Linked DNA regions of Homo sapiens. The protein of the gene in region 1 interacts with the protein of each later gene in a pairwise test. Each region holds a gene or a part of one and is shown in the gene's direction. Other genes may lie near its edges. The genes, in order: DNM2, PIP, CSF2 and PRKAA2.

Evidence for each region.
Region 2: the proteins of DNM2 (region 1) and PIP interact in binary tests that used the Homo sapiens proteins (3 or more experiments, as listed by UniProt).
Region 3: the proteins of DNM2 (region 1) and CSF2 interact in binary tests that used the Homo sapiens proteins (3 or more experiments, as listed by UniProt).
Region 4: the proteins of DNM2 (region 1) and PRKAA2 interact in binary tests that used the Homo sapiens proteins (3 or more experiments, as listed by UniProt).

The regions. Positions count from the first base shown.
Region 1 is NC_000019.10:10,819,050-10,826,083, forward strand, and holds part of DNM2 (dynamin-2), read left to right. Parts: intron 1-930; coding exon 931-1,040; intron 1,041-4,738; coding exon 4,739-4,850; intron 4,851-6,007; coding exon 6,008-6,172; intron 6,173-7,034. UniProt on the Homo sapiens protein: Catalyzes the hydrolysis of GTP and utilizes this energy to mediate vesicle scission at plasma membrane during endocytosis and filament remodeling at many actin structures during organization of the actin cytoskeleton.
Region 2 is NC_000007.14:143,128,078-143,135,086, forward strand, and holds the start of PIP (prolactin-inducible protein precursor), read left to right. Parts: upstream 1-3,999; 5' UTR 4,000-4,039; coding exon 4,040-4,134; intron 4,135-7,009.
Region 3 is NC_000005.10:132,069,674-132,076,704, forward strand, and holds CSF2 (granulocyte-macrophage colony-stimulating factor precursor), read left to right. Parts: upstream 1-4,115; 5' UTR 4,116-4,150; coding exon 4,151-4,309; intron 4,310-4,407; coding exon 4,408-4,449; intron 4,450-5,136; coding exon 5,137-5,262; intron 5,263-6,071; coding exon 6,072-6,179; 3' UTR 6,180-6,497; downstream 6,498-7,031. UniProt on the Homo sapiens protein: Cytokine that stimulates the growth and differentiation of hematopoietic precursor cells from various lineages, including granulocytes, macrophages, eosinophils and erythrocytes.
Region 4 is NC_000001.11:56,711,286-56,715,841, forward strand, and holds the end of PRKAA2 (5'-AMP-activated protein kinase catalytic subunit alpha-2), read left to right. Parts: 3' UTR 1-4,050; downstream 4,051-4,556. UniProt on the Homo sapiens protein: Catalytic subunit of AMP-activated protein kinase (AMPK), an energy sensor protein kinase that plays a key role in regulating cellular energy metabolism.

The DNA.
Region 1 (7,034 bases):
GCCCACCTCTGAGCTGCCTCCCTAGCAGTCTGGACAGCCGTGGCTGGCACTTGGTGCTTCCTGAACAGGGCCAACCTTAGAAAGCAAGTGATAGGGCAGGTGCGGTGGTGCACACCTGTAATCCCAGCACTCTGGGAGGCTCGCTTGAACCCAGGAGTTTAAGACCAGCCTGGGCAACATAGCGAGACCCCATCTCTATTAAAATAATGATAATGATAATAATAAAGAAAGGGAGTAAGGCTTCTGCAGCACCTGGCCCAGGACCTATCCAGCCCCAAGATGTCCTAAAGCGGCCAAGGTTGAAATCCCAGCCCTGCTCCTCTCTGCCTCAGTCTTCCCCTCTGTAAAATGGCATCACAGAGGTAACTCACTCCTAGGCTCGTTTCAAAGATGGAGCCCAGATAAAAGTTCCATTCACTTCGTGCAAGGCGAGGGGCAGTTGTGTTGTGCGTGCCGTCAGCCACATGTCAGCAGTGAACTCAACAGGAGTCCCTGCCCTGGAGAAACTTGAGTCAGTCCAGTGGCAGTCAGCCACCTAGGTCAATAAGCACAGGCAGTCAGGCACCTAGGTCAACAAGCGCAGGATACGTGACGTGTTGTGTGAGGGAAAAGGAGGATGGAGGTGGGGAGGGTGCGGGTAGAGTTAGGGCAGGAGGGAGCCATGCAAGTGTCAGGATCAGGCAGTAGCCCGGTCGTCCGAAGGCCCTGGGGTAGGAACCCAGGTGGGATACTCAGGGAGCATCATGGAGGGCAGCGTGGCTGGGACAGAGTGACGGACGGGGAAGGGCCGGCAGATGGGCTCATATACAGCAGCGACCAGCATTGAGAAGCCCCCGGGGCTGGTGGTGGCGCATGCTACACGCTCTGGCCTGGGGCATCCTGAGTTGTCACGTGGACCGCTCAGGGTGACTCTTTTCCCTCCACCCTCAGGAGAAAGAGAAGAAGTACATGCTGCCTCTGGACAACCTCAAGATCCGTGATGTGGAGAAGGGCTTCATGTCCAACAAGCACGTCTTCGCCATCTTCAACACGGAGCAGAGGTGAGGGGCCCAGGGGCCTGGGGATGGCTCGGGGTGAAGACCAATGGCCTCATTCACACTCCACAACCTTCACTGAGCACTGAGCACCTGGCTGTCAGCAGTCCCTGCCCTTGGGACCCAGCTTTTAGAAAGGGGAGTCACGTGAGAAATAGCAAATGCCAGGGATGCTTCCCGTGCTGGGTCAGAGATGACCTCTCTGGGCAGAGATGAGGATGAAGGCAGGCTCCGAGTCAGTGGGAGCCATGGAGAGTTCTGAGCACAGGGTGACCAGGACCTGGCTCAGGTGCTTGCAGGAGCCCTCTGGTGGCTGAGAGGGAAACAGTATGAGAGGGTGAGAGATGGGGGACGAGGGCAAAGGCCGCTGCCTTGTCCAAGTGGGCGATGATGGGGCCAGAACCCATAGGGAAGGAGGGTGCAGATTCTGGGTAGAAGAGTCAGGCGGAGCCCTGGTGGGCATGGATATGAGAGAGAAAGGCACCAATTGTGACCCTGAGTACGTGGGCCTGAGCTCCTGCACTGCCCAGCTGCTGCCATTGGCCGAGGTGGGGAAGGCAGCGGCAGGTAGGCCTGGAGACAGCCAAGAGCTCCATTTAGGCCATGCCAAGGGAGAGGGTGCATCAGGGAGGCACCTGGGTAGATCGAGGAGTGTGATGTCCAGGAACGAGCTCCAGTCTGGGATGTGAACTGGGCAGTCACCATTGCGTGGATGGTATTTCAAGGAACGAAACCAGATGAGCTCCCAGGAGAGTGAAGCTGGAGAATGGGAGGCCCCAGGAAGCTCACAGTACATCTGTCCCATGAGGCGTAGCTGGAGACTTTAGCAGAGACACTGCTCTCAGGAAGAAACCCAGCTGGCAGGAGGGCTCTTCCCATGCTCACACAATCACGCTCATCCAGGAAGCAGGGCCCACCTGAGTCAGGGATTAGCTGTCAGTAAAGGCCCGGTGGTACCCTGAGACCTGTAGGCAGGCACTGACGTCCTCCCTGCTGGCCCCAGAACCTCCTTGCCTACTGCTTGGCTACACCCACCAACTCCAGCTGAGTCTCCTGGTTCCCTCCTGCTTTGCTCTGGCTGGCCTAAAGCTCGAGACCCATTTGTCCACCAGCTGGCCGTGAAAACCTTCATAGCTCTTCTAGGCTTGCCCCTGGCCATATGACACCTGGCAGCTGTCCCAGGTCCCTGAGCCGTGTGCCTCCTGTACAGGGAGGGTGACAATATTATCTGATATATCTTTTAAGAGCAGGTTCAGGAAACCCAGAGTAGTAGCTGCAAAAACAAGATAAGATGGTTGATAGTTTTTTGTGTAAATTAAGTCCAGACTTTAGTATCCCGGGCAAAGTGGAGCAGCTCCACAGGCATCAGGGTCCAGGCCCTGCATGTTCCTCAGGATTCCACCTGATATGCAGAAGCCGAGCTCTGCGGTGGGACAGGCCTGCCATGAAATCCTGACTTTTTTTTTAAACGGAGTTCCGCTGTTGTTGCCCAGGCTAGAGTGCAATGGTGCGATCTCAGCTCACCGCAACCTCTGCCTCCTGGGTTCAAGCGATTCTCCTGCCTCAGCCTCCCAAGTAGCTGGAATTACAGGCATGCACCACCACGCCTGGCTAATTTTTTATTTTTAGTAGAGACGGGGTTTCTCCATATTGGTCAGGCTGGGCTCGAACTCCCAACCTCAGGTGATCCACCCACCTCGGCCTCCCAAAGTGCTGGGATTACAGGTGTGAGCTACTGCACCTGGCCCAAAACCCCGACTTCTACTTCTTTGTCCAAAATGGCTGCCCAGACTCCAGCCATTGTGATGATGTCCCAGGCAGCAGCAGGAAGGAGAGGAGGAGCTACAAGGGCATGCCTCTCCCCACACAACCTCATCCAGAGGTCGTTCGGGGCAGCCACTTGCTGACCACAAACCCAACTCTCACTTAAAGGCTTTGTGGGCAGCTTGGCTGTCTTAACCACACCTGGATGTGGGACAGGAAAATGTGCGTGGCATGTGGCACGGGGCCTGGCCTGTAGACCACCATCTGCAAGCACTGTTTAGCATCCATTCCATTTATCTCCCAGCTTTGAGACCCTGGTTCTTTTTTCTTTTTCTTTTTCTTTTTTTTTTTTTTTTGAGATGGAGTCTTCCTCTGTCACCCACCCAGGCTGGAGTGCAGTGGCATGATCTCAGCTCATTGTAGCCTCCACCTCCCATGCTCAAGTGATCCTCCCGCCTCGGCCTCCCGAGTAGCTGGGACTACAGGCGCACACCACCATGCCCAGCTAATTTTTGTATTTTCTGTAGAGATGGGGGTGTTGCTGTGTTGCTCAGGCTGGTCTCCAACTCCTGAGCTCAAGCAATCCCCCTGTCTCAGCCTCCCAAAGTGCAGGAATTACAGGTATGAGCCACCATGCCTAAACTTTACAAAAATTTTTTTGTTTTGTTTTGATACATAGTCTCACTCTGTCGCCCAGGCTGGAGACAGTGGCACAATCTTGGCTCACTGCAACTTCCACCTCCCAGGTTTAAGCGATTCTCCTGCCTCAGCCTCCCGAGTAGCTGGGATTACAGGCATGCAGTACCACTCCCAGCTAATTTTTTGTATTTTAGTATTGACGGGGTTTCACCATGTTGGCCAGGCTGGTCTCAAACTCCTGACCTCAGTTGATCCTCCTGCCTCAGCTTCCCAAAGTGTTGGGATTACAGGCGTGAGCCACTGTGCCCAGCCAAAACTTTTTTTATAAAAAACACACAGGCCGGGCACGGGGGCTCACGCCTGTAATCCCAGCACTTTGGGAGGCCGAGGCAGGTAGGTCACGAGGTCAGAAGATCGAGATCATCCTGGCGAACACGGTGAAACCCCGTCTCTACTAAAAATGCAAAAAATTAGCTGGGGTGGTGGCAGGTGCCTGTAGTCCCAGCTACTCGGGAGGCTGAGGCAGGAGAATGGTGTGAACCCGGGAGGCGGAGCTTGCAGTGAGCCAAGATCGCGCCACTGCACTCCAGCCTGGGCGACAGAGCAAGACTCTGTCTCAAAAACAAAACAAAACACATTCGGGCACAGTGGCTCACACCTGTAATCTCAGAACTTTGGGAAGCCGAGGTGGGCGGATCAGCTGAGGTCAGGAGTTCGAGACCAGCCTGACCAACATGGAGAAACCCCATCTCTACTAAAAATACTAAAATTAGCCAGGTGTGGTGGCGCATGCCTGTAATCCCAGCTACTCGGGAGGCTGAGGCAGGAGAATCGCTTGAACCCGAAAGGTGGAGGTTGCGGTGAGCCGAGATTGCGCCATTGCACTCCAGCCTGGACAACAAAAGCGAAACTCCGTCTCAAAAAAAAAAAATAAATAATAATAATAATAATAAAGTTCTGGTGGACAGTGCTGCTCTGGGCTTTCCTGAAAATGCCCCAGTGGGAGCTTCCCAGCCACAGTTGGTGTCGAGGGTCACATGCCCACCTCTGGGGGCCCAGGAAAAGAGAAGAGTCAGCTGATCCAACAGAAACAAAGAAACTCAGACACTTGCCGAGCTTGTGCACAGCGCTCTTCTGTGTAGGCGTCACTCACGGTGACCCCTCAGCATGACCAGGTGAAGCCTGGGTTGGGTTTGGGTTCCTGATCAGTCAGAAAGACCCCTAGAGCCCATTCCTCTCGGCAGTCTGCCAGACCCATGGCAGGGTCAAGCTTGTGCCCCTCCTTCCCCACCCCCCCGCAGAAACGTCTACAAGGACCTGCGGCAGATCGAGCTGGCCTGTGACTCCCAGGAAGACGTGGACAGCTGGAAGGCCTCGTTCCTCCGAGCTGGCGTCTACCCCGAGAAGGACCAGGTGAGGAGCCGTCCTGCGCAGCCAGGCCCAGAGCCCCCACCTGGGAGAGGAAGCAGGGCTGGCTTTCCCCAGGACAGGTCATTTTCAGGCCATGTTAGCCAGGAGTCTCTGAAATCATGTAGCAGATGCCCACTTGAGCAAGCAAAGGAGAAATTGGGGGTACTTTGTCATCAGGGCCCAGAAAGTTCCCTCACGGAAGCCAGTGACCGGGGCACACAGGGGATGGGGTCCCACTTGCTTTGTTCTCTTCTCTTTTCCCCTTCCATCCTGAGGTAGAGTGAACATGGCCACCCTTGGCCCCAATATTAAAATGCCTTGCCGGGCACGGTGGGTGGTTCGCCCCTGTAATCCCAGCACTTTGGGAGGCTGAGGTGGGCAGATCATTTGAGCTCAGGGGTTCGAAACCAGCCTGGCCAACATGGTGAAACCCCGTCTCTACTAAAACTACAAAAATTAGCCAGGCATGGTGGTACGTGCCTGTAATCCCAGTTACTCAGGAGGCTTAGGCAGGAGATCGCTTAAACCCGGGAGGTAGAGGTTGCAGTGAGCTGAGATCACGCCATTGCACTCCAGCCTGGGCGACAGAGCAAGACTCCATCTCAAAAATAAAATAAAATGTCCCAAGGTTGGGTGTGGTGGCTTACACCTGCAATCCCAACACTTTGGGAGGCAATGTGGGCAGATCCTTTGGGCCCAGGAGTTCGAAAACAGCCTGGGCAATGTTGCAAAACCCTTCTCTCCAAAAAATACAAACATACCCAGGCATGGTGGCGCACCCCTGTAATCCCATCTACTCCAGGGCGCTGAGGTGGGAGGATCACTTGAGCTCTCCCTGGGAGGTTGAGGCTGCGGTGAACTGTGTTTGTGCCACTGCACTGCAGCCTGGGTGACATAGCAAGACTGTGTCAAAAAAAAACAAAACAAAAAAACAACGTTCCAATGCCCAGGTGAGGGGATCCACCCCAGCATCAGCCAGGGTCACCCCATTGTTTGGGCAGCTCTGGCCCAGGGCAAGCAGGCCTATCTGGTGCCAGTGGGGCTGTCAGGGGCCAGCCTGAGGTCAGTTATTGGTGGGACAATAGGGCAGATGGTTTCCAGAGAACCAGGACTTGGCCCAGGCCACAGTCACCCCTCAGCACCTCCCCTCCCGCTTGCAGGCAGAAAACGAGGATGGGGCCCAGGAGAACACCTTCTCCATGGACCCCCAACTGGAGCGGCAGGTGGAGACCATTCGCAACCTGGTGGACTCATACGTGGCCATCATCAACAAGTCCATCCGCGACCTCATGCCAAAGACCATCATGCACCTCATGATCAACAATGTGAGTGGAGAACTAAAAATGAGAAGGAGGTAGCTGGGTGCGGTGGCTCACGCCTGTAATCCCAGCACTTTGGGAGGCCAAGGCGGGCGGATCACTTGAGGTCAGGAGTTCAAGACCAGCCTGGCCAAAACGGTGAAACCCCATCTCTACTAAAAATACAAAAATTAGGCTGGGCGCGGTGGCTCACACCTGTAATCCCAGCACTTTGCGAGGCCAAGGCGGGCGGATCACGAGCTAAGGAGTTCGAGACTAGACTGACCAACATGGTGAAACCCCATCTCTACTAAATATACAAAAATTAGCCGGGCACGGTAGCTCACGCCTGTAATCCCAGCTACTCAGGAGGCTGAGGCAGGGGAATCGCTTGAACCCAAGAGGCAGAGGTTGTGGTAAGCCTAGAGTGCACCACTGCACTCCAGCCTGGGCGACAGAGTGAGACTCCGTCTCAAGAAAAGAGAGAGAGAGAGAGAGAAAAATACAAAAAGTAGCCGGGCATGGTGGCGGGTGCCTGTAATCCAGCTACCCGGGAAGCTGAGGCAGGACAATTACTTGAACCTGGGAGATGGAGATGGCAGTGAGCCAAGATCGTGCCACTGCACTCCAGCCTGGTTGACAGAGCGAGACTCCATCTCAAAAAAAAAAAAAAAAAAAAATGAGAAGGAGGCCAGGCACCCTAGGCCATACCTGTTTGTAGTCTTAGCACTTTGGGAGGCTGAGGCAGGAGGATCACTTGAGCCCAGGAGGTTGAGGCTGCAGTGAGCTATGATCATGCCACTGCACTCCAGCCTGGGCGACAGAGCAAGACCTTGTGTCCAACAACAGCAACAACAAATTTGAATGAATCACCACCCTTTGAACACCA
Region 2 (7,009 bases), on another chromosome or scaffold:
CACTGTAACCTGATTTACTACCATAACCTGGTTTTGGCCATGCTCCAAGACCTCATTCTTTTGTAACCTCAAGATGGTACATGAGCTTCTGTACTCCCACTGAGGAGTTGGAGGTCATCATTCTCTCCCATGCACGTTAATAAACTTGTATGCCATTTCTCCTATTAATCTACTTTTTGTCAGTTTATTTCTCAGTGAAACTTCAGAAGGCAGAAAAAAAGTTTTCCCTTGGCCCCTACATCACCAGGGTGACCTTAGAAATGACACTAAAGGCCAGGCATTGTGGCTCACGCCTGTAATCCCAGCCCTTTGGGAGGCCAAGGGGGGGTGGATCACCTGAGGTCAGGAGTTTGAGACCAGCCTGGACAACATGGTGAAACCCCGTCTCTACTAAAAATAAAAATAATTAGCTGGGTGTGGTGGCAGGCACCTGTAATCCCAGTTACTCAGGAGGCTGAGACAGGAGAATCACTTGAACTTAAGAGGTGGAGGTTGCGGTGAGCCGAGATTGCGCCACTGCACTCCAGCCTGAGTGACAAGAGTGCAACTCCACCAAAAAAAAAAAAAAAAAAAAAGGAAGAAAGAAAGAAATGACACTAAAGATGACAGAGTTTCTAAGAAAAGAGTCACACTCCAGCTTCTCTCACCTCTGAGAGATTTTGCTTGGATATAACCTCCTCTAAGAAACAACTCATTACATCTTACATCTTCAGTATGCATTAGATGCCCTTCTACAAGTCTTGTGCCAATTATGCTTTTATTAAGTAAGAGGAAATATAGAGTAGTCACTCTAAGTGCCAACTCCGGATTCACTTCTATCTGGGTTCCAATGGTTTGGCTTAGTCATATGGCCAAGCCAAACTTCAATACCTTTGTTATTTGTTGGCTCTGTGACTTGAACAACTTATTAAAACCTCTGTGAGTTTCCTTTTCTCAACTTTAAACTGTTGCTACATCAATAAATAGACTAGACAAGTGTTTAAGGACATAAACTCTGGTATCAGACTACTTGATTTTGAACCCCTAACTCTGCCAGTTACTAACTTTGCAACTTGTTCTCGCCAGTAGGCAGTGCAGTGGTTAAAGGGTCATGTTCCAGGGCCAGACTGCCAGCGTGGAAATTCTGGCCCCACCCAAAGGTGTATTCGCCATTAAGTTAATGGCATGAAGCCTCAGGGCTTCCTACTTATGGGTGCCTCCTCCAAGATCCTGTACCTGTAGTTTACATTTGTAAGTTTGGATTCTATTTCAAAAAGAGGTTCTCAGATACTGTAAATCAAAACTCAGATTCCACAAAACCTGCTTGCAAAGTTGACTCTGCCATATACTGGCTATATGGTCTGGGTTAGATATTTATCTCCTGGGTCTCTGTTTCTCCTCTTGTAAAATGGAATAAAAATGGCAACCACCTTCACAGGGTTGTAATAAAGATTGAGCTAATATATGTTAAAATGTTTAGAGCAGTGTAATGCACACAGCATATGCTTCATGTGTGTTGGTGTCTATAACTCCCTCTCTGTCCACTCCTTATCTTCTTCTCATGAGCCCTGTCAGGACTAAGATTATCTTTCTCTTTGTAAACTTAGCCTGTGGCAAGCCTCACCTATATTCTAACTCTTTCCCTATGGGACTATACACATTCTCTTCTGTAAGCTTCCTGAGTTGTTTACAATCTGATTTTATCAACCTTTATCTGATTTCTTAAACCTAGACTTGTTCATTCTTTATGGCATAATAATTATGGTTTCTTTTTCTCCCTAATCTTCTTCCTCAAGGGACCTCAAGCTTTTCTCTTAAGACTTTCAACTGATCCAATGAGTCTGACCCATATTATGGAGGTAATCTGTTTTACTCAAATTTTACTGATTTAAATGTTAATCACATTTAAAACAAACAAACAAACAACAACTTCACAGCAACTTCTAAACTGTTGTTTTTCCAAAAAGTGGGCACCATGCCTAGCTAAGCTAACAAATAAAAGTAACCATCACAGCAGTCATGGCCTGAATAAGACTTGTCCTAGGCCAGGCACAGTGGCTCACACCTGTAATCCCAGCAATTTGGGAGGCCGAGGCAGGTGGATCACTTGAGGTCAGGAATGTAAGATCAGCTTGGCCAACATGGTGAAACCCCATCTCTACCAAAAATACAAAAATTAGCCGGGTATGGTGGCACCTGCCTATAATCCCCACTACTCGGGTGGCTGAGGCATGAGAATTTCCTGAACCCGGGAGGTGGAGGCTGCAGTGAGCTGAGATCATGCCACTGCACTCCAGCCTGGATGAGTGAGATTCTGTCTCAAAAAAAAAAGATTGTCCTGTACATTGTAGGTATTGCAGTTTCCTGCTAGCTCACAGAAGAACAGCCTCATTACCTTCAATAGATGCTCTTAACCCATCGTCATCTGCCTTCCTCTGGACACTGCCTTTTGGGAGTGCTGGAGTTGCATCCTCAAGGACAGGGCTATGCCTTCAAAGAGCCAAGCAAAGAACTTTTCCTGCATTTTCCCACACAGACACTTCCTAGATTCTTCTGCCTTATGCCTGCCTTGGTCAGTGTAGCTAGGATGTGCTTCAAATGGAAATTATGCAAGTGAGAAGGACCAGGTGTAAAGACAATTTAATTGTGGGAAAAGGCTTACAAAGGAAGGTCATTGTGACCCTCACAAGCAGTGTTCTTGAGTGGATAGGACATAAACAGGGAAGAAAGCATGTGATCATGAGAACAGCTGAAGTTCTGAGTGAGCAATGACATGAATGGTGTCCAATTCAAAGAAAAGAGAAGGTAGATCCAGGAGCTGAATAAACAGACAGAGCAATTTTGAGAGATACATCCAGAAAGCAGAAGCACACACTTACACTTTAGCTCTGAATCCTGGCTAAAGCAACATACAGAGGCGGTAACTCCTAGAACTCTGATTTTCACTCTGTTGCCAGAGAGGCTCTTCCTGGGCAGCTGTGTGCCATGCAAATGATAGAAACAAATCCCATAGTATTGTAAGTCATAGGTTAAGGAGCAGATTTAATTTCATAAGGAGAAATAACACAATGCCAGTGTCAGCAAGAGCAAGTCTCCCCATCATCCCAAGGAGAGGAATTCTACAACCTGGGTATCTACTGGACATAATGTGGGCTCCATTCTCACAGAAGGAATCCTTTCCACTGTGGTTCTTCCTGTGTGGCTTACGCATGAGACAAGTGTAAGAAAGTGGCCATGTCAATAAGAAAATAAGCCAGCTCTTTGGTGCCAAGAAGTCTGATTTGGGGGTGCCAGCTATTTATAGGAATTGTCTAGAATTAAAATATCACCCTGCCTTGGGGATTGTGGGGCAGCTGGGGATCTTGGACATCTGCAGTATATTGCAACCACACCTGAAATTAAGAAGGACTCAATGACAATAAACATCTTTACATCACCCAGTGTCTTGAACTCACTTCCCCATCATGTAGAGCAGCTCAGGTCTTCTCTAGCTCTTCCACCTCATGATGGGTAGTGACTGCTAGGGAAGTCCTGATCATCCTAGCCCTCCAAGAAATGTTTTGAATAGCATTGCATCTTGAACTCACTATAATTTGATCAAGCAAAGATGTTCTATGTCTCTGGTCTGAAACCTGCCACCACAGCTGTGTTCTCTGCTTTCAGAGACCAGGGGAGCAGTGACTGAAGCTAAGACTACACATAGCACTTCAGACAGGCAAATTAGGAGGGAAAAGAAAACTGAATCTGTAAACTCGGGAAAAACTGGTGTATCTTTTGAGGTCCCAGCCATTTTGAGAAACTCTGATGCTGAAAAAATAAGGAAGAACAATCTGACTCCTCTCTCAAACGCTGACATTCTAGCTGAGTGTTGATTTTTTCTTAGAAAAACAAACTTTGGGTCAACAAGGAAAGATCACGAGTGGGGAGGGTGAATGGGTGATTCACCTCATGGATCTCCCTGGCAGCTCTTGCACTTCCTTGATCAATCTGTATATAAGAAATGTGCTGGGCACCTGGGACACCACTTCTCTGGGACACATTGCCTTCTGTTTTCTCCAGCATGCGCTTGCTCCAGCTCCTGTTCAGGGCCAGCCCTGCCACCCTGCTCCTGGTTCTCTGCCTGCAGTTGGGGGCCAACAAAGCTCAGGACAACACGTGAGCCATGCCCTTCTCCTCCCCACAAAAAAAATTGCAGGGAGGGCTCCTCTCCCAGTCTGGAAATTACATATCTCTTTCTGAGAATTTCTTTCAACTTCCCAGAACTCTAGTCCCAGGAGCTCCCATGGATCTCCTGCCAGGTTCCACTTCTTGTCCTCTTAGGAAGCCCCACCAACTCCTCTCACATTTTTGCTGGGTGTTTCTGCATTGCCAGTGGAAATAAAGCTCCAAATGTACCTACAGGCTGTAATTAGTAGTTAGTCTTCATCTAACATGCTGATCCACATCTTGTTCATAATTTATACCTTTGTTCAGATTTCTGCTCAGTAAACTTTACCTTCTCACACCTTGCCTCCTAGAAGAGAAGCATAACAGGTCTGTGAATTCCAATGGCAGCTTAGGGCAGCTTTGGCAGGACTGGCTAAAGGACCAGAGGCCCTGGCCACTGCCCTGTGGTCTGAGATTGAGCTAGACTGGCAGCTTAGACATTCTTCCTAACCTGAAGTCTGAAGATGAATATGATGACCTCTTGCTCTCACGTATACTGGGACCTGAGAGCACAGGTTCAGAAGTCAACTTATTGAGAACACATGTGTGAAGGAAGCAGAAAAATTGGAGCAAGTAAAATAAAGTAGAAAATGGAGCCAAGGGTCTGGGAGAAAGCAGCGATACCCAATCTAGGGAGTTTTCTCTATAGCAGTAGGGTTTATAATGCTGGGTTTCTGGGTTGTGATCTTGGAGGTACTCTCTATGGCATGGTCAGATATCCTGTCCTGGAGGAAACTGTTCAGGGTTTTGACAAGCTAATGTAATGGAGGCAAGTGTCCCAAGAAACCCTGCATGGGGACAGGTTCAGATCCCACCCCATTCCCGCCAGATGACAGTCCACTTAGCCCTGAAGGGCAGCAAGGTATTCAAATAAGCTATGCTAATTAGGTTATCAACCATCCATCCTGATTTGCCCAGAACTTTCCTGGTTGTAGCACTGCAACTCTGCCCTCCCCCGCCACCTCCACAACCCATTCTGGAAAAGACCTCAGTCCTGGGTAAACTGAGATGGTTAGTCACTCGAACTAAGCTGGTCATCCTATCAATCTGAAACTCATATACAAATGGGAGAGATTTTGAAGTTGCTTAGGTATTTATACCCTTTTCCTGTGCACTGGGCACTACAGCAGTTGGCACCAAAAAATAGAATCTCTCTAAGATGCTTTGCCCCAAGAAAATGGGGCTGTGAGACACTGTGGGCTAAGAATCTCAATTCCCTTCTGTCCCACACAATAACAAAGGTCCGTAGCCGGGAGTTTCTAGGGACGAGAAAATAACTCTCCTGGCCCCGAACCCAGTCCTCATTGACTGAAGAAGAACATTTGACCATTTTATTTGTCTCCATTTCCTTTCCTTTTCAGATTGCAGTGTATGGTCTAAATGTAGAGTAGTATCTAAAGTTCCCAAACATGGCCATATGTCCAAATTTCCTAAGGAGCTAAATAAATACAAATTCCTAAACCCTACCTGGGGACCACAGAAGGAGGATCTTCAAAGATGCTCCTACAAATACCTCCAGTGCATTGAGATGTTTGCTGGGTTTTTAAAATTTTTTATTATTTTATTTTATTTTTCCATAAGTTACTGGGGTACAAGTGGTATTTGGTTACATGAGTAAGTTCTTTAGTGGTGATGAGATTTTGGTGCACCCATCACCCGAGCAGTATACACTGCACCATATTTGTAGTCTTTTAGCCCTCACCCCTCTCCCACTCTTCCCCGCAAGTCCCCAAAGTCCATTGTATCATTCTTATGCTTTTGAGTCCTCAAAGCTTAGCTCCCACATATCAGTGAGAACATACGATGTTTGGTTTTCCATTACTGAGTTACTTCACTTAGAATAATAGTCTCCAATCTCATACAGGTCACTGCAAATGCTGTTAATTCATTCCTTATTATGGCTGAGTAGTAGTATTCCATCATATATATATATATATATATATATATATATATATATATATATATATATATACCACAGTTTCTTTATCCACTCGTTGATTGATGGGCATTTGGGTTGGTTCCACAGTTTTATAATTGTGAATTGTGCTGCTATAAACATGTGTGTGCAAGTATCTTTTTTGAATAATGACTTCTTTTCCTCTGGGTAGATACCCAGTAGTGGGATTGCTGGATCAAATGGTGGTTCTATTTTTAGTTCTTTAAGGAATCTCCACACTGTTTTACATAGTGGTTGTAGCAGTTTACATTCCCGTCAGCAGTATAGAAGTGTCCCCTGATCACTGCATCCACGCCAACATCTACTGTTTTATGATTTTTTGATTACGGCCATTCTTGCAGGAGTAAGGTGGTATCGCATTGTGGTTTTGATTTGCATTTCCCTGATCAAGAGGTTTGCTGGTTTAATGTGATTCTGTTGCTAGAAAATTTTCTCCTAATAATGACTTGAGCCCTCCTACTCAGTAGACAACCACCAGAGCCTGTAGGATGTTATCAGGAAGTGGCATGTGGTATTGTACATTTTTTCTTTTTAAAAACTTGTTTTTGGTCAATGGAAGGGAAGAAGATGCTCGTTCATTGATGGGCATTTGGGTTGGTTCCATGATTTTGCAATTGTGAATTGTGCTACTATAAACATGCATGTGCAAGTATCTTTTCTAAATAATGACTTCTTTTCCTCTGGGTAGATACCCAGTAGTGGGATTGCTGGATCAAATGGTAGTTCTACTTTTAGTTCTTTAAGGAATCTTAAAGTGTCCTAGTTGTTTTATTAAACAAAATTAAATCTGTGTGAAGTTACCAATCCAATCAACACATGAAAATTCCAGGGGATTCCAATGCTGAACAATTGATCCAAGCCCCATAA
Region 3 (7,031 bases), on another chromosome or scaffold:
CGAGACAGAGGGGATGCACGTGGGGACAGAATGGGGCTGAAACCGCAGAAGCCAGAGATGTTGCTTCATATGTCTGGTGTGGCCTGGAGTGACAAGGGAAGGACAAACCACTCATGGTGCCATGCGGTACCAGGATCTCCTGTCGGTGATGCAGGACCCAGGAGCCCTGACTCAGGTGGAGGCCGGACTCCCTACCTCACCACGTGTGTCCAGAAGGTTGCCCTCTGCGGCTAGGGCTGGGCAAGGGGCAGCTGTCCCTGGAAACTCCAGCAGGCCTCGCTCCTCTGCCCAGTTTGGGCTTCAGAAATCTCCCCTAGCACTGGGCAGAGGAGAAATTGAAGGATTGTCTCTTCCCTGGGAGGATCTCCCACAGAGTTTCCTGGGGCAGGCAACAGTTTCCTCGGTGAGGCAGTGGCCATTAACCCATTGTACAGATGCAGGGGTTGAGGCTCAGGGAGGAGGGACTTTCCTAGGCTTCAGGGATTGGTGGTGGCTGGGTAAGGGCAAGAGCCCAAGCCTGGGGCATAGAGATGCCTGGATGGCAGGATCTGCTGGGGAAACTCTGCCTTCAGCCCAGACTTCCCTGGGACAGTCACAGGCCACTCCAGCCTACCTGCGAACACCTGGCAGGCATCTCTCTTTACAGCTGCCTTGAGGGGACAAGCACGCTGGGTCCACCCCCTGCTGGTCCAGCCAGGTGATCAGCATTTCCCAACTTCCTGACCCCAAGACAATGGAAAATGCTAGGATAGCAGGAACAGATATGGGTTCAAATTCTGGTTCTGCGGTCACTGATTGTGTGGACTGGGCTGACCACTGGTCTCCCAGATCTCAGGTCCCCAGAGATAACAAGAACCCTCATCAAGGGTTGGACAGGTCAAAGAAGGATCAGATCAGCCCCAAAGCCTGTGCGGGGGTGCCATGGTACCGAAGGGACTTTGAGGCCCATTTCCTTCCCCTTGTGATAATGTCTCTCGTGATAAGGATCCTGGAGTGACTCAAGCCCCTGTTTCCTACAGAGCCTGTGGGGTGGACACGCATAGGAAACTCCTTCCAGAGGGTTTTCTCCTGTCTCTGTAGGAAGGGGGGCCCCAGAGGGGTCATACCACCCATCGTGGTCCCCGCCTCTGCCCTGCCACAGCCCCATCGGAGCCCCTGAGTCAGCATGGCTGGCTATCGGTTGACACTGTTTAAAATACAGTGCAATCTAGGAATGCCTGCCTGTGTCATGGCCTCAGCCCTGATGTCATCTTTCCATGAGAAAGATGTGTGGCTGCCCACAAACCTCATCACCAAACCCATGGATTTCTGTCCTGTTTGTGCTGACTTGGGCACCTGCAGGCCACCACTGCCGAAATGGATTTCTTATTATGACTCTTGCTTTCCTCCTTTCCTTCCCTCCTAGGCCCTTGGCCACTGGCCTGTTACTTGCCCATCTGTTATGTCCCAGCCCTTAAACACAGCTTTGCTGGCCCTCAGCTCTTCTTCCTGAATAACTTCCGTGGCCTCAGCTACCACACAGACATGTACCGCTGCCAGATCTGTCTCCTGTACATGCAGACTCTGAAACTCCAAAACTTCCCGTGGGCCTCACGCTCTGAAGATCTGCTCCTTTGTCCCCTGGGTCCTCACCTTAGCCATGTGGACAGTGATTCTAACTCCTCTTACTCACATTCAAAGCACACTTTGGTGGGGGGGGAGGGGGGTGAGTAGACTAATCTTGCTCCTCCATGGATGGGGTTAAAAAGTCCTTGGAGGCAGGACCCTGACCGTTTTTGTCATCCTTATGTCCCTTTTCCCTGCTGGGAACCTAGTAGATGCTCAAAAAATAATGAATGACTGAGTGACTTCACTATAGCACCAAGTCCTGTTGAGATTCTACCTCCTCAATCTCTCTGGAGTCTGCCTGCTGTTCCTTATACCCATTCCTAAAACCCCAGGGCTCCCTGTGCCCAGAACATTCTCCCCTGTCCTCTCCTGCCCCTCTCCTTCCAACCCAACGTACCCACCTGACTTCTAGCCTTTCAGCCTGGGCTTGCAGGCAGGATCTCTAGTGAAGCTCTCTGGTCCCCTTGGATCCCCAAGCTAGAGAAGGTGGCCCTCTGGGATCCCTCAGCTCTGGACTTCCCCCTGCCGAGTCAAGGTCACACCATGGGAGGGTCCATTGCAGTCTGTTTCCTACCAGACTGGGAGCCTCAAGGGCCAAATGTGAGGGCCAGTGGGAGGGTCCCGTTTACCTCCCCAGAACAGGTCCTGGTGTGGATTGGAAAGACTTGTTGACTGACTGTCTGAGCTATGACAACTCATTTCTAGGAGGAAAGTGACCTTCTCTCCCAGATGGGTCATACAGGCTCTCTGCCTCCCTGGCCATCAGCTGAACCACTATCTATGGCTCCCTTCCCTGCCCTCCAGCCTCCAGGGTGCTATCCAACACATGTGATATCTACATGTAGTATCCATGTCCTCATCTCTCCCCCGAGAGCTCCCTGGAAAGAGCTGAGCCAAGGCCTTGCAAAAAAGGTGGAGAAAGGGCCAGGGCCTGGACATTTCATGTTCCCACCCCAGCCTGGCCACTAGGAGTGTTCTACGCAGGCTCAGATGGATGGGGCTGGCCTCACAGTGGGGTCTGGAGGACTAAGGTTTGGTTTCTCTATGCAAGGTCAGAAAAACTCCCACAGTACAGGGAAACTGGCCAGGGCTGCAGACTCAGACCACAGTGCTAAAGCCATGAACTCCACCTGCTCTCTGAAGGCTCGCCAACCTGAGTCCAGCAGAATGTTCTCGCTTGTGTCCAACCCCACTGGTTTAGGCTGAATCAGCCTCTAGGGCCCAGAGGCACTGCACCTGGAGTAGGGAGCTTCTCCAGTATCAGAGTCACCTTCAGAGGCCTGGAGCCTTTCATAAAGCAGGTAAGAGGACTCAATAGATGCATCTGCATGGAAAACATCCTCCCCTCTACCAGGCACCTGTATGTACAACCAATCACAGCAGCACACATACACCCAGAAATGGGCACGTGTGGGCCCACACCCCTTTAGCTATGAAACCCAGGCATGGGGCAGCTTGAGCCAGATACCTTGTGCAAACACAAACTCGTGCTGTCTTCTCTGAACTCCATTGTGAAAATCAAACACTTGTCAGCCCCTCAAGAGCCTTTAGATTTCCTACTTCCACACTTCCACAGAAAGGCCTCTGGAGTTGGGGGATGCTGGGGTTATGTAGGAAATTAAGCCTGGAGGGCCTTGCTGGGGAAGCCATTGTCCCTGTACCTGAGATGGATGCAGCCACAGCCCTGGAGCCAGCCTGAAGCTCCTGGTGTCTTCTGGGGGCTACATATAGGAGTGTAGTCCGAACCTCAGAGGGGCAAACCTGCTCTGCAGAGGGAATCAAGGTTCACATAACCAGAGAGGGGAGTCACTCAGGAAGGTGGCTCCAGAGCCAAGAGTCAGACTCTGGGTCCCGACTTGACCCAGCCACACCCCCTCTGAAGCTTGCTGAGAGTGGCTGCAGTCTCGCTGCTGGATGTGCACATGGTGGTCATTCCCTCTGCTCACAGGGGCAGGGGTCCCCCCTTACTGGACTGAGGTTGCCCCCTGCTCCAGGTCCTGGGTGGGAGCCCATGTGAACTGTCAGTGGGGCAGGTCTGTGAGAGCTCCCCTCACACTCAAGTCTCTCACAGTGGCCAGAGAAGAGGAAGGCTGGAGTCAGAATGAGGCACCAGGGCGGGCATAGCCTGCCCAAAGGCCCCTGGGATTACAGGCAGGATGGGGAGCCCTATCTAAGTGTCTCCCACGCCCCACCCCAGCCATTCCAGGCCAGGAAGTCCAAACTGTGCCCCTCAGAGGGAGGGGGCAGCCTCAGGCCCATTCAGACTGCCCAGGGAGGGCTGGAGAGCCCTCAGGAAGGCGGGTGGGTGGGCTGTCGGTTCTTGGAAAGGTTCATTAATGAAAACCCCCAAGCCTGACCACCTAGGGAAAAGGCTCACCGTTCCCATGTGTGGCTGATAAGGGCCAGGAGATTCCACAGTTCAGGTAGTTCCCCCGCCTCCCTGGCATTTTGTGGTCACCATTAATCATTTCCTCTGTGTATTTAAGAGCTCTTTTGCCAGTGAGCCCAGTACACAGAGAGAAAGGCTAAAGTTCTCTGGAGGATGTGGCTGCAGAGCCTGCTGCTCTTGGGCACTGTGGCCTGCAGCATCTCTGCACCCGCCCGCTCGCCCAGCCCCAGCACGCAGCCCTGGGAGCATGTGAATGCCATCCAGGAGGCCCGGCGTCTCCTGAACCTGAGTAGAGACACTGCTGCTGAGATGGTAAGTGAGAGAATGTGGGCCTGTGCCTAGGCCACCCAGCTGGCCCCTGACTGGCCACGCCTGTCAGCTTGATAACATGACATTTTCCTTTTCTACAGAATGAAACAGTAGAAGTCATCTCAGAAATGTTTGACCTCCAGGTAAGATGCTTCTCTCTGACATAGCTTTCCAGAAGCCCCTGCCCTGGGGTGGAGGTGGGGACTCCATTTTAGATGGCACCACACAGGGTTGTCCACTTTCTCTCCAGTCAGCTGGCTGCAGGAGGAGGGGGTAGCAACTGGGTGCTCAAGAGGCTGCTGGCCGTGCCCCTATGGCAGTCACATGAGCTCCTTTATCAGCTGAGCGGCCATGGGCAGACCTAGCATTCAATGGCCAGGAGTCACCAGGGGACAGGTGGTAAAGTGGGGGTCACTTCATGAGACAGGAGCTGTGGGTTTGGGGCGCTCACTGTGCCCCGAGACCAAGTCCTGTTGAGACAGTGCTGACTACAGAGAGGCACAGAGGGGTTTCAGGAACAACCCTTGCCCACCCAGCAGGTCCAGGTGAGGCCCCACCCCCCTCTCCCTGAATGATGGGGTGAGAGTCACCTCCTTCCCTAAGGCTGGGCTCCTCTCCAGGTGCCGCTGAGGGTGGCCTGGGCGGGGCAGTGAGAAGGGCAGGTTCGTGCCTGCCATGGACAGGGCAGGGTCTATGACTGGACCCAGCCTGTGCCCCTCCCAAGCCCTACTCCTGGGGGCTGGGGGCAGCAGCAAAAAGGAGTGGTGGAGAGTTCTTGTACCACTGTGGGCACTTGGCCACTGCTCACCGACGAACGACATTTTCCACAGGAGCCGACCTGCCTACAGACCCGCCTGGAGCTGTACAAGCAGGGCCTGCGGGGCAGCCTCACCAAGCTCAAGGGCCCCTTGACCATGATGGCCAGCCACTACAAGCAGCACTGCCCTCCAACCCCGGTGAGTGCCTACGGCAGGGCCTCCAGCAGGAATGTCTTAATCTAGGGGGTGGGGTCGACATGGGGAGAGATCTATGGCTGTGGCTGTTCAGGACCCCAGGGGGTTTCTGTGCCAACAGTTATGTAATGATTAGCCCTCCAGAGAGGAGGCAGACAGCCCATTTCATCCCAAGGAGTCAGAGCCACAGAGCGCTGAAGCCCACAGTGCTCCCCAGCAGGAGCTGCTCCTATCCTGGTCATTATTGTCATTATGGTTAATGAGGTCAGAGGTGAGGGCAAACCCAAGGAAACTTGGGGCCTGCCCAAGGCCCAGAGGAAGTGCCCAGGCCCAAGTGCCACCTTCTGGCAGGACTTTCCTCTGGCCCCACATGGGGTGCTTGAATTGCAGAGGATCAAGGAAGGGAGGCTACTTGGAATGGACAAGGACCTCAGGCACTCCTTCCTGCGGGAAGGGAGCAAAGTTTGTGGCCTTGACTCCACTCCTTCTGGGTGCCCAGAGACGACCTCAGCCCAGCTGCCCTGCTCTGCCCTGGGACCAAAAAGGCAGGCGTTTGACTGCCCAGAAGGCCAACCTCAGGCTGGCACTTAAGTCAGGCCCTTGACTCTGGCTGCCACTGGCAGAGCTATGCACTCCTTGGGGAACACGTGGGTGGCAGCAGCGTCACCTGACCCAGGTCAGTGGGTGTGTCCTGGAGTGGGCCTCCTGGCCTCTGAGTTCTAAGAGGCAGTAGAGAAACATGCTGGTGCTTCCTTCCCCCACGTTACCCACTTGCCTGGACTCAAGTGTTTTTTATTTTTCTTTTTTTAAAGGAAACTTCCTGTGCAACCCAGATTATCACCTTTGAAAGTTTCAAAGAGAACCTGAAGGACTTTCTGCTTGTCATCCCCTTTGACTGCTGGGAGCCAGTCCAGGAGTGAGACCGGCCAGATGAGGCTGGCCAAGCCGGGGAGCTGCTCTCTCATGAAACAAGAGCTAGAAACTCAGGATGGTCATCTTGGAGGGACCAAGGGGTGGGCCACAGCCATGGTGGGAGTGGCCTGGACCTGCCCTGGGCCACACTGACCCTGATACAGGCATGGCAGAAGAATGGGAATATTTTATACTGACAGAAATCAGTAATATTTATATATTTATATTTTTAAAATATTTATTTATTTATTTATTTAAGTTCATATTCCATATTTATTCAAGATGTTTTACCGTAATAATTATTATTAAAAATATGCTTCTACTTGTCCAGTGTTCTAGTTTGTTTTTAACCATGAGCAAATGCCAGTGGTGCCTGCCTTCCCATGAGGCAGGGGAGGGAGGAAACGGGGAGGTGGAGAGGGGGCGGGGGCCTCCCAGGCGTTGGGCACTATCCAAGGGCCAACACTGTCAGAGCAGAGGGGAGGTGAGAGCCGGGCATAGGTGCGGAATTCTGCACACCTGGACGGGCTTCCCGGGATGCTCCAGGGCTCCCACCCCAGAGAATGGCTCTCAAGTTCACCTGGAAGTCCAAGTGACCAGCCCAGGGAACTCTTATCCCAGAGAAGGGCACCACCCTTCCTGGGGAGGCCTGGGGGTTGGCTGGTCACTGGCTGAACAGGCCCACTCTGGCATCAGGCAAAACACCTGCCCTGTAGAGGCCTTGGCCCCTGTGCCCCACGCCCTGCCCCTCACACTCTGAGATTTAACCATTCCGAAAGTAAACAGCAAAATAGACTAACTGTTCAGGGGAAAAGAAACCAAACCACAGGGGTCACAGTGCAGCGTATTTACCAAACTTG
Region 4 (4,556 bases), on another chromosome or scaffold:
AATGAGACATAGTTTAGAAAAAATCATAAGCAACTATTGTAGATTTTTGATCTGTTTGGATTTATCTGTAGCATTGAATAATGTGCAGTGTACTGAGTTAATGTAGGCACCTCACTTTGGATTTATAAAATGTAAAAACCTGGAACATGCCTGCCACAGACACCACTTTGTCTATTCACCGGGTACTAATTTACATCCTATTAATGGTTGTAAAAGCTGAGTGTCTAAATGCTAGACATGTTCACAATTTTGTCTGTTTTTGTTTATTTGTTTTTAAGACCCAAACCTTTTCAATCTTGCATTTATTTACTTGGTTCTCCTGTGTCACCCTGTGGCTTTTTAAATAGGGAATGTAATTTATTTTAATAGTAGTTCTCAAAGACTCTATTAAAAACTCTGGACGAGGGATATGTGCAATCTGTTGGTAAGTCACATCCTATGTTTGGCCTCATTTTTATAACTCCTAAAATGAGAAAGGTAGATTTTAACACTTCTAAGGTACCTTTGAGCTTTAAAGTTCTTTTCTGCTTTTCCATATGATTTGTGTTAGTGTTCACTTTTTATATATTTAGAGTTTTTATATGAGTGTGAATGTTTCTGTTTTGATTTGGTGAGGCATGTCAGAGGTATATACTTGAATATTTTTCTAAATACAGCTGCTGGAGGAATGCAAATGGCAAAAATCATCCAGAAAACCAAACACGGTGAAACATCACATCCATTTGGCATGAAGCAAAGCATTACAAATTTGGAGTGATGAAAGTGTTCCATATATTTTTTATAGTGATTTTTCGATCTAGAGACCCTTCATATTGTTTACTTACTATTACGATAACTTTGAGAGGTAACCAGAGAAAGCATTTTTGCCATTTCCAGATGAGGAAGCAGGACCAGAAAGCTCTTCATAAAGCTTTAACACCATACAAGTATCCAGCAGTGATCAATTGCTCTTTATAGGAAACCACCTTTCCTCTGGGGAAGAACAGTCTGAATTAATAAAACATCAGAGTGGTTGAGTAGTAAAAATAAACACAGATGTATTGCTTTCAAGTCTTAGAGTGACATAAAGTAGTCTTAAATAAATAGTTCTTAGTTTATTTTAAGCAGTTGATTGTACTAACGAGATGTAATTATCTGAAGTATTTATGATTAGCATATTGGTTTTTATAAGTATTTCTGAGTTATTGAGGGTGCTTAAAAATGCTGAAGAAACTTTAAAACATGATTCTTCTTATAATTTTATGTGATTCTTATAGCACAATCATTTTTGAAAAAGGAAAACTAGGCTGGGTGTAGTGGCTCATGCCTATAATCCCAGCACTTTGGGAGGCCAAAGTGGGTGGATCACCCGAGTTCAGGAGTTCGAGACCAGTCTGGCCAACATGGTGAAACCTCGTCTCTACTAAAAATACCAAAATTATCCGGTGTGGTGACAGGCTGCTTGTAATCCCAGCTACTCGGGAGGCTGAGGCACGGGAATCTCTTGAACCTGGGAGGCAGAGATTGCAATAAGCCAAGATCATGCCACTGCATGCCAGCCTGGGTGACAGCACAAGACTGTCTCAAAAAAAAACAAAAAAAGGAAAAAGAAAACTAGCCCCAGTCCCTGTCTAAATTGTTATAGTTTTTGACTATTATCTGAATTAGTCTTATCCAAATTTCATATGCAGATTGATTTTTCATTTTGTATGTATATTACATGATATAACTATTTTCATAGAATATATTTCTAATTTACAAACACTGAATTATTAGCTTGATAGAGTTTCTCCCAAACCTTATAAAACTTTGAAATGTACTTATGTTTGAGCTTTAAAAATTATAAAAACTTCATTTAAACAAGTTGCTGGCATCATTACTAGCCTTTCCACCTATAATTATGATGCATTTGATGCCACTGAACAGTAATAGCACAAAGAACAGGTCACACAGTCTAGACTGGATTGAGTTTTAATTAAACTTCTTCATCCATAGCCTGATAAGAATCAGGCTGGGTCTAGAAGAGTTATCAGACTGTAGGCCTGTATTAATTTTGCAAGCTAATGTTAATGTTTACTGCCAGCCTTGCATAGCAATGCCAGTTTGCAGTTGTGACTATGATGTGACTTTTGGTAAAAATGGTTTATATCTAAAGTAGTTTAGATTTTATGGAAGTGGCTCTTGATTGTTTGGACAAGCAGGGTAGGTAAATTTCAATTACGTTTGAAGTGTAATTAAATCCTAGAATAGAGCACTCTCCAGAAAAAAAAATGAAAAAAGAATTTGGAGAATATCCTGGCATGAAAACTTTTTTGAATAATACGTAGAATTTTGACAAGGTTCATACAGTGCATACAGTGTGACCTTTTCTGAGGTGGGCAGGGAGGGTTGCTACGTTGTGTTGATTTAAAATTTCAAGGAGGAACAAAAACATTCTAGCCAAGGAGAATTGCATTGTTATTTTTTTTTCTACTAATTTAAACGTGCATTTTTCACAGTTACACATTTAAGTTTTGCTACCAAAAATGGCCATTTTTCTAGACAGATAACATTTTCCTAAAGTGGAAGAGAGATCCACTGTTCTAAAAAAAAAAAAAAAAAAAAACACTAAATTGTGCCTTCTCCCTTAAATTATAAGAAGAGTAATAGTAAAAACTTGTTTAAACTATATTTTCTTTTTTTCTAATCCCTCTCAGTTCTCCTTAGATCTGCCTCCTACAAATGATCATGTTGTTTGCATCTGCCTGATTGAGTTCCCTTGGTCAAACCTCTCCCTATCACTATCAGAAGTTGTTCACTAAATGTATTTTCCTATTTCTTTCATGTTGATTGACTTTATAAGTCACCTTGGTAAACATAACATTTGGCTACCTTCTCATGCTTTATAAATGAATTTGATGAATGGCAGTTTTTATATTTTAACCCTTTAAAAAGTTTGTCAAGGAAACAACTCAGAGCTAAGAACAAAATCTAACTTGGAATCAGTTTCTTCCTTTGGCTGCTGAAGCAGCAGCAAGTCACGTAACCTCATTTAGTTTTTTGATTTACAAAATGTGGATAATAACCTACCTCACAGATGTGTGTGAGCAACTGTTTGAAAGCCCTTGTTTAAATACAGGGTTTATATCCCCACATTCAATGTAAATTCCTTTTTTTAAAAAAAATAAGTATCTTTGATACTGATAGGATGAGTATCTTGATTTTTAGGTAAGATCACAGTTTCACAAATTGTGGTGTTGTTAGGTGACATTTAATATTTCTTGAGACCTCAAGTATTCAAATATCAAACTTGTCCTGTGTTGTAACAAATATTCAGAATCTCTTAAAATGTTGGCTGAAGCTGCCTTAATGTACCAAAATACAGCTCTCAAGACTGTTCACAAATATCTGTGGTTGTACAATGTTTTGAACATTTAATGTAAAGTTGTTGTAGAACTGTGAACTCTAAGGATAGTATCTTTATTGTTTTAGGAAGAATGGTTGTGTTCTTTGTCATGTATGCTTAAATATACAGTGGATTTTGAATGCAACAAATAAAACTGAAAACAGCCATTTGGTTGTGTCATGACAATCATAATATAGGATATAATATTTACTTTTTTTCAAAAACATCCTGCATTCATTCATTCTTAGCATACCTTTGAAAAAGAAAAAAAAATCCATAGGTTGATACATTGACCCATTGAAGTACTTCATTACGTATTTATTGAAAATTTTTTTTAATTGTTGAAATTGGGACCACTTTTTATAATTGGTTTCAAGAAAAAAAAATGAACAGACTTCCAGTGCTTTTCTGTTCAAATAAACTCCGATTCAAATTTCAGTTTTGTTTGTTATATACTTTTTGTGAGTGTTAAATGATATGGGAAGGATTTGTCTTTCATTAACCATATGGAAAAGATGTCTTCCTGAATTACATAGCATTTCATAGTTACAGATTCTTCCTAATTAATGTTTGCACCATATGAAACTCATAGGTAACAAACACAAAGGAGAAAAGCAGCCTGTCTGATTGCTTATAAGCTTTTTTCACAAAATCAAATTAAAAGTCTCTGATTCATTTGAAAGCTATTTTTGTTTCTGCTCCATCATTATGCTGGTATTCTGCACACCAACTAATAGTTACAGGAAAGTTGTTAGTGGAAAAGATTGCCTATACTCATTGGTGATTTCACACCATCTTTTTTCATTTTTGTCATCTTAGTTGTACATTATAGTTTTTAACTTGAGTTATTGCATTGGTTTTCTACTGTTGCTGTAACAAATTACTACAAACTTAACGACTTAAAATACAAATTATTTTATTGTTCTATATGTTAGAAACCCAGCAGGCTTAGCTGGTTTTTCTGCCTCAAGTCACACAAGCTGAAAACCAAAGCATTGATAGGGCTGGGCTGTGGAGGAGAATCTGTTTCCAGTTGCATTGAGTTGTTGGCAGAATTTCATTCCATGGTGCTGTAGGATTGAGGTCCCTGTTGCCTTTTTGGCTGTTGGCTAGGAATCATTTAAAGCTTCTAGAGGCCATCATCCCTTGGCCCTTGGCTCCCTTCATCTTCAAAACCAGCAACAAGTGGCTT